2 separate regions of the Homo sapiens genome follow, and region 2 is linked to region 1. Evidence: fine-mapped expression QTL. Tissue or cell type: unexposed skin. Region 1 holds a variant in brackets; the other region holds the start of a gene. All regions are shown on one strand. Distances are between the middles of the regions.

Region 1 (4,395 bases):
TATCAAAAGTAGCGTTAAAGCTTTACTTCTAAGTATTAATTAGAATCATATTTGTGGCGGGAAATATGATCAGTTAATTGTGTTACATCTCAGTAATCATTAGCCCCACCTCTCCACCAATAGCCCAGGCAAAAATCACAGTTTCACAGGTGAGGAATGCATCGGGCATGTTGGGGTGATAGCACTCGTGGCCGGACTCCAGAACGCTGTCGTTAAAGTTGTTGCTGCACTGATAGAGCAGGATGTGGTGCACCAGACTCTCATGGCCTCTCTGTATCACTGGCTCAACCTACACGAACATAAATGAGAGGGAGGACACAATAAATAAGACCACCCTACAACATCCCACAACAAACGTGAAACTAGCATAAATTACTGTCAGTTTCTCAAAGGGATATTCTTCTCAATTATGTCAAGGTTGTGTAGTTCAAGTCTAATTTGTTCTGGAGACAGTGACAATGGTAAAGATATGATGATGACAACGGCAACAACAAAGATGAGATAACCATTTAATCCAAGAAACAGGACTTTACTAATCGGCTTTTTTTTTGGTTGTTAATTCACTGTCCTGTCCTTTGCCCATTCTGCAGAGCAATTGTTTTGAAAATTGCTTGCTTTTTTCCAGGTTTGCTCTTCCTCCTCCTGCCTCTCACTTTTTTTTAAATTTTTATTATTATACTTTAAGTTCTAGGGTACATGTGCACAACGTGGAGGTTTGTTACATATGTATACATGTGCCATGTTGGTTTGCTGCACCCATTAACTCGTCATTTACATGAGGTATATCTCCTAATGCTATCCCTCCCCACTCTCCCCACCCCACGACAGGCCCTGGTGTGTGATGTTCTCCACCCTGTGTCCAAGTGTTCTCATTGTTCAATTCCCACCTATGAGTGAGAACATGCGGTGTTTGGTTTTCTGTCCTTGGCGATAGTTTGCTGAGAATGTTGGTTTCCAGCTTCATCCATGTCCCTACAAAGGACACGAACACGAACTCATCCGTTTTTATGGCTGCATAGTATTCCATGGTGTATATGTGCCACATTTTCTTAATCCAGTCTATCACTGATGGACATTTGGGTTTGTTCCAAGTCTTTGCTATTGTGAACAGTGCCGGAATAAACATACATGTGCATGTGTCTTTATAGCATTTTTTTTTCACATAGAAAAAAAGAAGTCAAGGCTGTGGGCACAAACGCTCTTAGTCTCCCTCTCTTCCACCTCAAAATGTTATCTTTACCCATCCCTACCAGTGGTGAGAGGTGAGATCTCATTTATCTCTATAAATGCATGGTGCTGAGAAGAAGGCTAGGGCTCAATCATTTTTACTGGTGATTTTATCATCAATGAAATTCAAGAAGAATTAAATTGTAATCTGACCTCCAGATTACAAATTGAGGGTATAGCCTAAAATATGAGGATTTCCTAAGAAAAAAAATCCACCCATGAAACAACAAGGAAACTTACTGCAAGTTTCCTTGCACATTTTATTTTTATTTTAATGATTAAGATCAAAAGCCAATAACAATTTTATTATTAGAATTTGGAAGAGAAAAAAAACATTGTTAGCTATGTGCGCTTGTGACACTGCTCAAATTAAAAGAGGAAAACTAGAAACAAGTAGAATGGGCAGTGAAATTGGTCCTAATGTGGAAAGCGTGATCCACATGAATGTGGTCCTTCCACTGTTTGCTCTGTTAGTTCCCTTCATAACACTTGCCCACTTTAGTCCAAGAACCTAGGAATCAACTCAGAATGAGTGAAGCACACCCTAGCATCCCAGAGATTCTATATGCAGACCAAATGGAGCCTTGTACTTGGTGTAGGTGGGCTGTAGGTGTTGCATCAGTTAGAGCAGGGGTCCCCAATCCAGTACTGGTCCGTGGCCTGTTAGGAACTAGGCCGCACAGCAGGAGGTGAGCAGTGGGCAAGTGAGCAAAGCTTCATCTGTATTTATGGCTGCTCCCCAACACTCACATTACCTCCTGAGATCCACCTCCTGTCAGATCAGCAGTGGCATTAGGTTCTCATAGGAGTGCGAATCTTATTATGAACTAACTGTGCATGTGAGAGATCTAGGCTGCGTGCTCTTTATGAGATTCTAACTAATGCCTGATGATCTGAGGTGGAACAGTTTCATCTCAAAACCATCTCCCCCATCCTCCAGTCCGTGGAAAAACTGTCTTCCATGAAACCAGTTCCCTGTTACCAAAAAGGCTGGAGACCGCTGAGTTACAGGGTTCTTTTTTCTTTCCCCTCAGAGTTCTTGGAATCTTTGTTCAGCTGATAAAGTAGCCCTGGCGTGTTGCTAAATATCCAAGAGTTTAGCCTTAGAGTTCATCAACACTTCTGTGTTTAGTCCTAACTACTCAAATTCAGGCACCGCATTTTAAAATCCTTGCTTGCTCTCTACTTTCAGCATGCACATTTACATGAAGTGTTTTCAGCTCTTTTCTCCTATGGCTTTGTTTTCCATTTTCTCCACAGTTTTTCTCTTTTCTGTAGGGAAATCTAAGCAAGGGGGGAAATGGTATGTAGTGGGTCGTGTCTGAATGGGCAGCCAAGAAATTCC[A/G]GTTTTTAAATCCAGTTTTCTTCTGTGTTACATAGCGAGTCATGCCACACCTAAGCCTCAGGTACATTTTCAACATCACATTCATGGAAAAAACATTGCACACGGTTTTGTTTGCACTTGTTTTGTCTCTAAAAGGTCGTGTGGCCTGAAGGCAGAAACTTTTCTATTTTGCTTGAAAAGGGTAGTTATCGTTCAAGCATGGTTGCATAGTAACAATGATTGCACAGAAGTAAAACCCAGAATTTCTATAAGAATTTCATTTTTATGTCTAGTTTGAGCTTCTGTCTGAGACTTGACGTTTTTGGGTTCCTCGGTCCTCCAAGGGGGACAGGGCACTGCTAAGATGTCAACAGTAAAATATTCAGGCACATGTGAGATTTTTGCTAAATACCTCATAAATTCAGGCAGAACCTTAAGGTTGTACTGAGCTCTGTAAGGTAGATCTTGGGAAGAAGCCATTAGGGCAAAGGAGAGTTGGTTACTGTCACGACAGTTTCAGAAACTAGTGGCCTTCATTGAAGTAGAGGAAGAGGGAGTGAAGGGTGTGTGATGCTGGGTGGTGCTTGACTTTGGGGAGCTTCAAATAAACAGCTTGAAAGAAACTTTTAAGAGCAAGTGCTTTTTTTTTTGTCTTCATAGGAAGTGCTAAAACTAACACCAAACTGCAAAGCTACCAATTTATCCCTGGAATAATAATAACATCTGTCTTTTATTTAGACCTACTATCTACTAGCCACATATGAATCATTCTATGTATTTCATTTAATATTTACAACAAATCTATAAGAAAGATGTTATAATCCTTATCTTACAGATTTACTGAAACTCAGAGATTAGACAACAAGCCCAAAGTACCACAGCTGGGAAAGGGTGATGGGATTTTAAACCAGGCTAGTGTGACCCCAAAGTCTGTACTTTCCTACGGCTACACATTATTGTAGGAAGCGTGTTGGAGATGCATCAAGGACCCTGGAAGTTGCTGCCGGTGGGAGGGAGGATGAAAGGCTTCAGTAAGGCAAGTTGCCGACAGCTGTCATCAACAAGGGTGATGACCTCAGGAGCCAATGCCAGAAGGTACTTCTGGAAGCCACTAGCAGGGACCACCACATGCAGATGCCCTCAGAGGTGCAGTGCCAGACTGGGAGTCTTACACCTGGGGAGGGGGCTCATGGCCTCCCTGCCACTCCAGTCCCAGTGCCCCTTGGCCTCTAGGATGAGAAGACAGACCCATGGCCTTTCAAGGTGTTCCTTCTTACAAAGGGCAAATAACAAGGCTTCTCTTTGAAACTTGATGAGGGCTTCAAGAAGAATTAAACTGTAATCTGACCTTCAGATTACAGATTGAGGGTGCAGCCTAAAACATGAGGATTTCCTAAGCAAAAACACCAACCCATAAAACAACAAGGAACCTTGCTGCAAACTTGGGTACTGATCACGGGAGGAGAGGATAAAAAGGCTTGGAAGAAGCAAGCCCTTGGCAAAATAGAAAGGATGTGAGCAAAGACAGGGAAAAAAAGAAAGAAAAAGAAGTGCTTGGAAATGACATGTAAGGATAAATATAAATTAAGAAACTGATAATATGGGAGAAAAAATTACCTGACTATCAAACTCCTGAAAAATAGAAGAATAATTTCTAGAGAGGAAATTTTCAGACCACCATGGGGATATTAAGTGAGACACCAAGAATGTTCCTTAAGGATGGACATAACTTGTTTAGTGGAGGGTACAACTTGAGGAAATGGGAGTACTTTGATCAGTGCAGGACAGGGCCATTGGCTCAAATGCTTAGCACAGGATAGGATTTCCCACAATGCTTCACGCCA
Region 2 (4,395 bases), 71 kb after region 1:
AGTGTATGAAGAACCTTAAATAAATAGTTTCTAGAGAGGAGACTGAATTTCGAGCGTTGGAGAATGGAATCATTCAGCCTGAATAATAAAACTGAAATTGATACATTTATTTCATTTATATTATTTGGTGTATTTCATCTTATTAAACAGATTTTAAGTTAACTGTCTTTCCATTTAATTGAATAGCATAATTTTAATGCATTTTATATGTCCTAAAATGAGTAGAATGTTTATGGAAATGGAAGGTAAAATATGTCAGCCAAGTAAGAAAACGATCATCCTTTACATGTAAAAATGATTTTATTTCCTTAGGAATAAAAATGGACGGGAAGTCCTATTTATTGCTCATTAAATGTATTGAGAATGCAGCCAGTCATAATTTATCTCATAGTGATGTGTATTCACTAATTACTTTAAGAAAATTTCTATGTTTCAAAATCAATCTAAAGAGTACTTAACTAAGTCCTATGCAATCTCTATGAAGAACCACAAACAGGGTGAAAACACTGTAGTTTAACCAAGTTTATCTTTGTGGTGGGCCTATTATGGCATGTTGAATCAGAATTCTACTCACGGCTTTTCATTTGACATACAATTGGCTGGGCTTTCTAGAAATGCTACTCTTTGAGGGAAAATAATATGGAGTTAACATTCAAAGTATGTCCCATTTTATAATATTAGCATAGTAAGAGTTATGCTCCCTTTTGTAGAACATGCAAGGATAGTTAAGGGGCATACTATACTCCTCTCCCTAAACGGTAAAATTTCTTTTTTAAAAAACGTTAAATAGGTATTTAAATAAGGTATTGTCTACTTTATATTACAGGAGAATGAGTCATTCCCCTAGTGAGGCCTGCATTTGTGGTCAAATACTTGGTTCATAAAGTTAATGTCTGAGATGCTGCAGGAGGAGAATATTTATACATCAGTGACTTCAGCAGAATGCAATCCTCATAAAACTTTATTTTATTGGAGTTGTAAAGTTACTTATTTGGGGGAAGAAACGATTAATTTATGAAAAAATAGATAATAGAGTGGTTTTGAACTTTTTATTGTTGTCACTTTATTTCCTTCCAGAGTTAACAGCTCAGTGCCAGAATCAGCGTTCAAGTTTGATGGCATATTTCAGTCGAAAAGAACCTGGGGATAAAATTACTAAGAAGCGCACTCTAAATCCACGGAGAACACTGATTTAAATACTATCAAAGCCTTAATGCAATGCCAGAACAATTCGGAGTTTTCATCTGGATCAAGACTTTTAGCAAAGGGCAGTATGTTCGGATGAATTTTTATAATAACAAAGCGTGTACGTTCACCGCCATCCAAACGTTGGTCACGATCAAGCAAGGATGTCCAGGAAACCTAGCCACCTAATCATTCTGGTCATCTCACAATCTTCTTCTTCCTTTTTTTTTTTCTTTCTATTTAGTAAAGCACCCATGAACAGGCAAGGTGGTTACTTAGGCTCCTTCAAAGTAAATCAGCAGCGGTCAAATTAACTTTATTGGTTATTAAAGTAAGCCAAAGTTTTGTCACTTCATAGGATATTTTGCCTGGGGACCTTCGATTTTGGTCTCTAAATGTGGCTTCCTGAACAGCTCTCGGAATAGGAAAGTCCCTAAGCGATTCTTAGGGGCCCTTCATTCTTCTGGAGAATGGTGTAGCTGACATCAGCCCCGCGCCTGGAGGCTCCCAAATAGCCACGATTTGGGAAGTTCTGAGATTTCCACTCCTAGACAGCAAGTCCGCGACGTACTAAAGCGCTCTGTCCCTTCCCTCCTCTGAGAGCTGTCCCATTAGGTCCCCAAAGCCAAAGCCTAGGTCCTTCTCCCTTCCCATCAGGGATGAAGCGGGGTGTATTGCAGGTGTGTAGGCGGGGGGGCGTCTATTAAGTGGGGCGCTGGGGACAGGAAAGTGTTCAAAGAAGGAAACCTGCCTGGGGTCATCCGTGCTCGGCTTCCCTACCGCGCGCCTTCTGGGGCTCCGGGAGAGCAGGCGCTGCCCGCGGAGGCGAGAGTGAGCGTGGCCGGGGGCGCGGGGCTGCGCCAGGTGAGAGAGAGCTGCGGGCCCCGGGGACGACCCGCACCTGCGCCCTCTCTGGGGTCCGGACGGGACCGGGCTCGGCCGGGCGGGCTCCGGGAGGAGACGCGCTTACCTGGAGGTAGGGCCGCCCGTGGGCCACCCCGCCCACGACGATGTCGGCGGACGCCATGGCCCCGGTGGGCGAGAAGCCGAAGCCCACGTAGCCTGCAGTGCGCACCTGGAGGCGGAAGGCGATCTGGCTGCCCCGCTGGCTCCAGCCCAGCCAGTACTTGCCCTCCGAGTCCAGGAGGGTCCGGTGCGGATAGGTTCGGCCCGAGCCCCCCGCCGCCGTCCCGGGGAGCAGCCCCCACAGCAGGAGCAGCGGCCAGCAGCACATCCTCGGGCGCCTCCTGCCCGCCGGTACCGGCCTCCAGCCGCTGGGGAGTGAGGAGCAGAACGAGGAGCGGCAGCGGCGGCGAGCGGGAGCCCAGGGACCGCCCCTCGGGCCGGCCGCGCGCCCGCCCGGGAGGGGCAGGACCCGCTCTCCCCGCCCCGGGCCGCCTGCAGGGCGCGCCGCGTCCCGTCCGGTCCCGTCCCGTTCCGTCCCGTCGGGTCCCAGCCCCGCCAACTCTCACCCTGCCCGGCCCTTCCAGCGGATCCACTTGCAGCCCCCGACCCCTGACTTGGTCCCCGAGGTCGGGGCTCGGTGGGAAGGAAAGCGAGGGGCTTCCCGGAAAGAAAGGGAGGAGGAGGCAGGAGGAGGCAGACGCCGAGAGAGGAGAAAAGGAGGCCAGAGGCAGAGGGAAAAGGAGGAGGGCAAGAGAATCCTAGAGCGGGAAGAGCGTGGGCTCTGCGGGACGTGGGCGAGAGGTTACCAGGGAAAGAATGGACATTGACGGCAGAGAGCAAGTTTAGCCTGGAGAGGAGGAATTGAGTGAGCAAAGGGGGTAGTCTGGGGTGCGATGCACAGAAAGGCCCGTCCAGGGTAACCTTCACGTCTCCGTATCCGTTGCTGTCGACTTTCCAGAGCCTTTGTTCCCAGTGACGTCCCTATTGCAATGGAGGGACACACTTCACTTTCCCCAGCCCCCCACCTCGAGAATTTCTCTCACCCTCCCACCCTGCGGGGCCGCAGAGCTTGCTCCTCACGGCAGGAGTTGGAGCCCTGACGCTTGCCTTCACCTAGTTTTTGTTTGGTTTGGTTTGGCGTTGATGGGACAAAGTCAGCCAAACTACTTTGCCATCAGCAGAGAAGGTAAGGGGTGAATTGTCATTTGAGAGTTATATTTTAATTTAACATTCTCTTTTCTTGCTATTCCAAGTTCTGGCCATAACCATGTTTGTCAAAAGTTTGTTTTGTTTTGGTTTTGCCTCTACCTTTGACCACTCCTGTCTTTAGAATGCTAAATACAAATATGGCCACTAAAATTTACCTTGCTTATTTATTCCTTTATTTATGATCTGCCAAGTTTCCAAAAAAGTTCGAAATTTTGTCTTTATAAAAATACAAACAATGCAAAATAGAAAAACAAATAAGAGAGAATATCAGATGAGAAATATGGGTAAGAAGAGCAAGCTCCACACTAGCCACCCTACACTCCTCATTCTCTCTCCTCACCTCGTATTTCAGCCTGTTTTTCCCCCTGCCTATCTTTTCCCATAACTTTTCCAAAGTTACCGTCATGCATCTAATTTATATTCTTCTAAGGATACGGGAATATTTGATCATGTCTGGAAGGTGACCTGTAGGTGGATCTGCTTACCAAAGTGCTCAGGGACTTGCCTGGGAAGGGACTTTTCCCAAGGAGAGATTGGATCAAGGTCCGCAGGGCTGGCCAATGGCAATAGGCCAGCATCAGAGAAGAGTGATGTTGGAACCGCAAAATAAAATGAGAAATAAAAGAGCCTGCAAAGCCTTACAAGAACTGGGCATGGAGACTATGAAATATAAGTAGCTGGTGCCTCACCTCCACCAGGACCCACTGGGCAAATGTCAAGGGCAGTAACAGCCATACAGCAATGTAAGGGTGGCAACCTTAGAATTGGGTTTTTACAAGCACCATACCAGGGACGTGGCTTCAGCCATGAAGAAAGGAAGGGGGATATGGAGAGAAAGAGGAACAAAATAGGGGGAATGGAGTCCCAGAGGAGTGGCTCATGGCACCGGGTGGGACACACTCACTATCCTCTCACTATCCTGGGCAGGGATTTCAGGGAAGTTAAATTACTGCAGAGTGACTAAAGGCAAACTTTCTGTTTTGTGACCCTACTTTTATTCCTAGTGTGGAGGAACCTGGAACAAGCACATTGCTACATCTGCTTCCTGGGGTTCGTTATATAAACCCCAAATTCACATCTATTAGGACATTTTGT

What was found.
Region 2: MOXD1 starts here. The variant in region 1 is fine-mapped to the expression of MOXD1 in unexposed skin (GTEx, PIP 0.97).

The regions. Positions count from the first base shown.
Region 1 is chr6:132,328,306-132,332,700 of GRCh38, forward strand. MOXD1 (monooxygenase DBH like 1) reads right to left here. Exons shown (of 12, transcript NM_015529.4): 5 at 110-289. Among named protein-coding and RNA genes, the nearest start is that of MOXD1, 71 kb to the right of the region's middle. The variant A/G (reference allele first, on the strand shown) is at 2,573.
Region 2 is chr6:132,399,008-132,403,402 of GRCh38, forward strand. MOXD1 (monooxygenase DBH like 1) reads right to left here and starts at 2,468. Exons shown (of 12, transcript NM_015529.4): 1 at 2,156-2,468. The coding sequence starts at 2,419. RefSeq lists silencers at 2,172-2,221, 2,352-2,521, 2,542-2,681.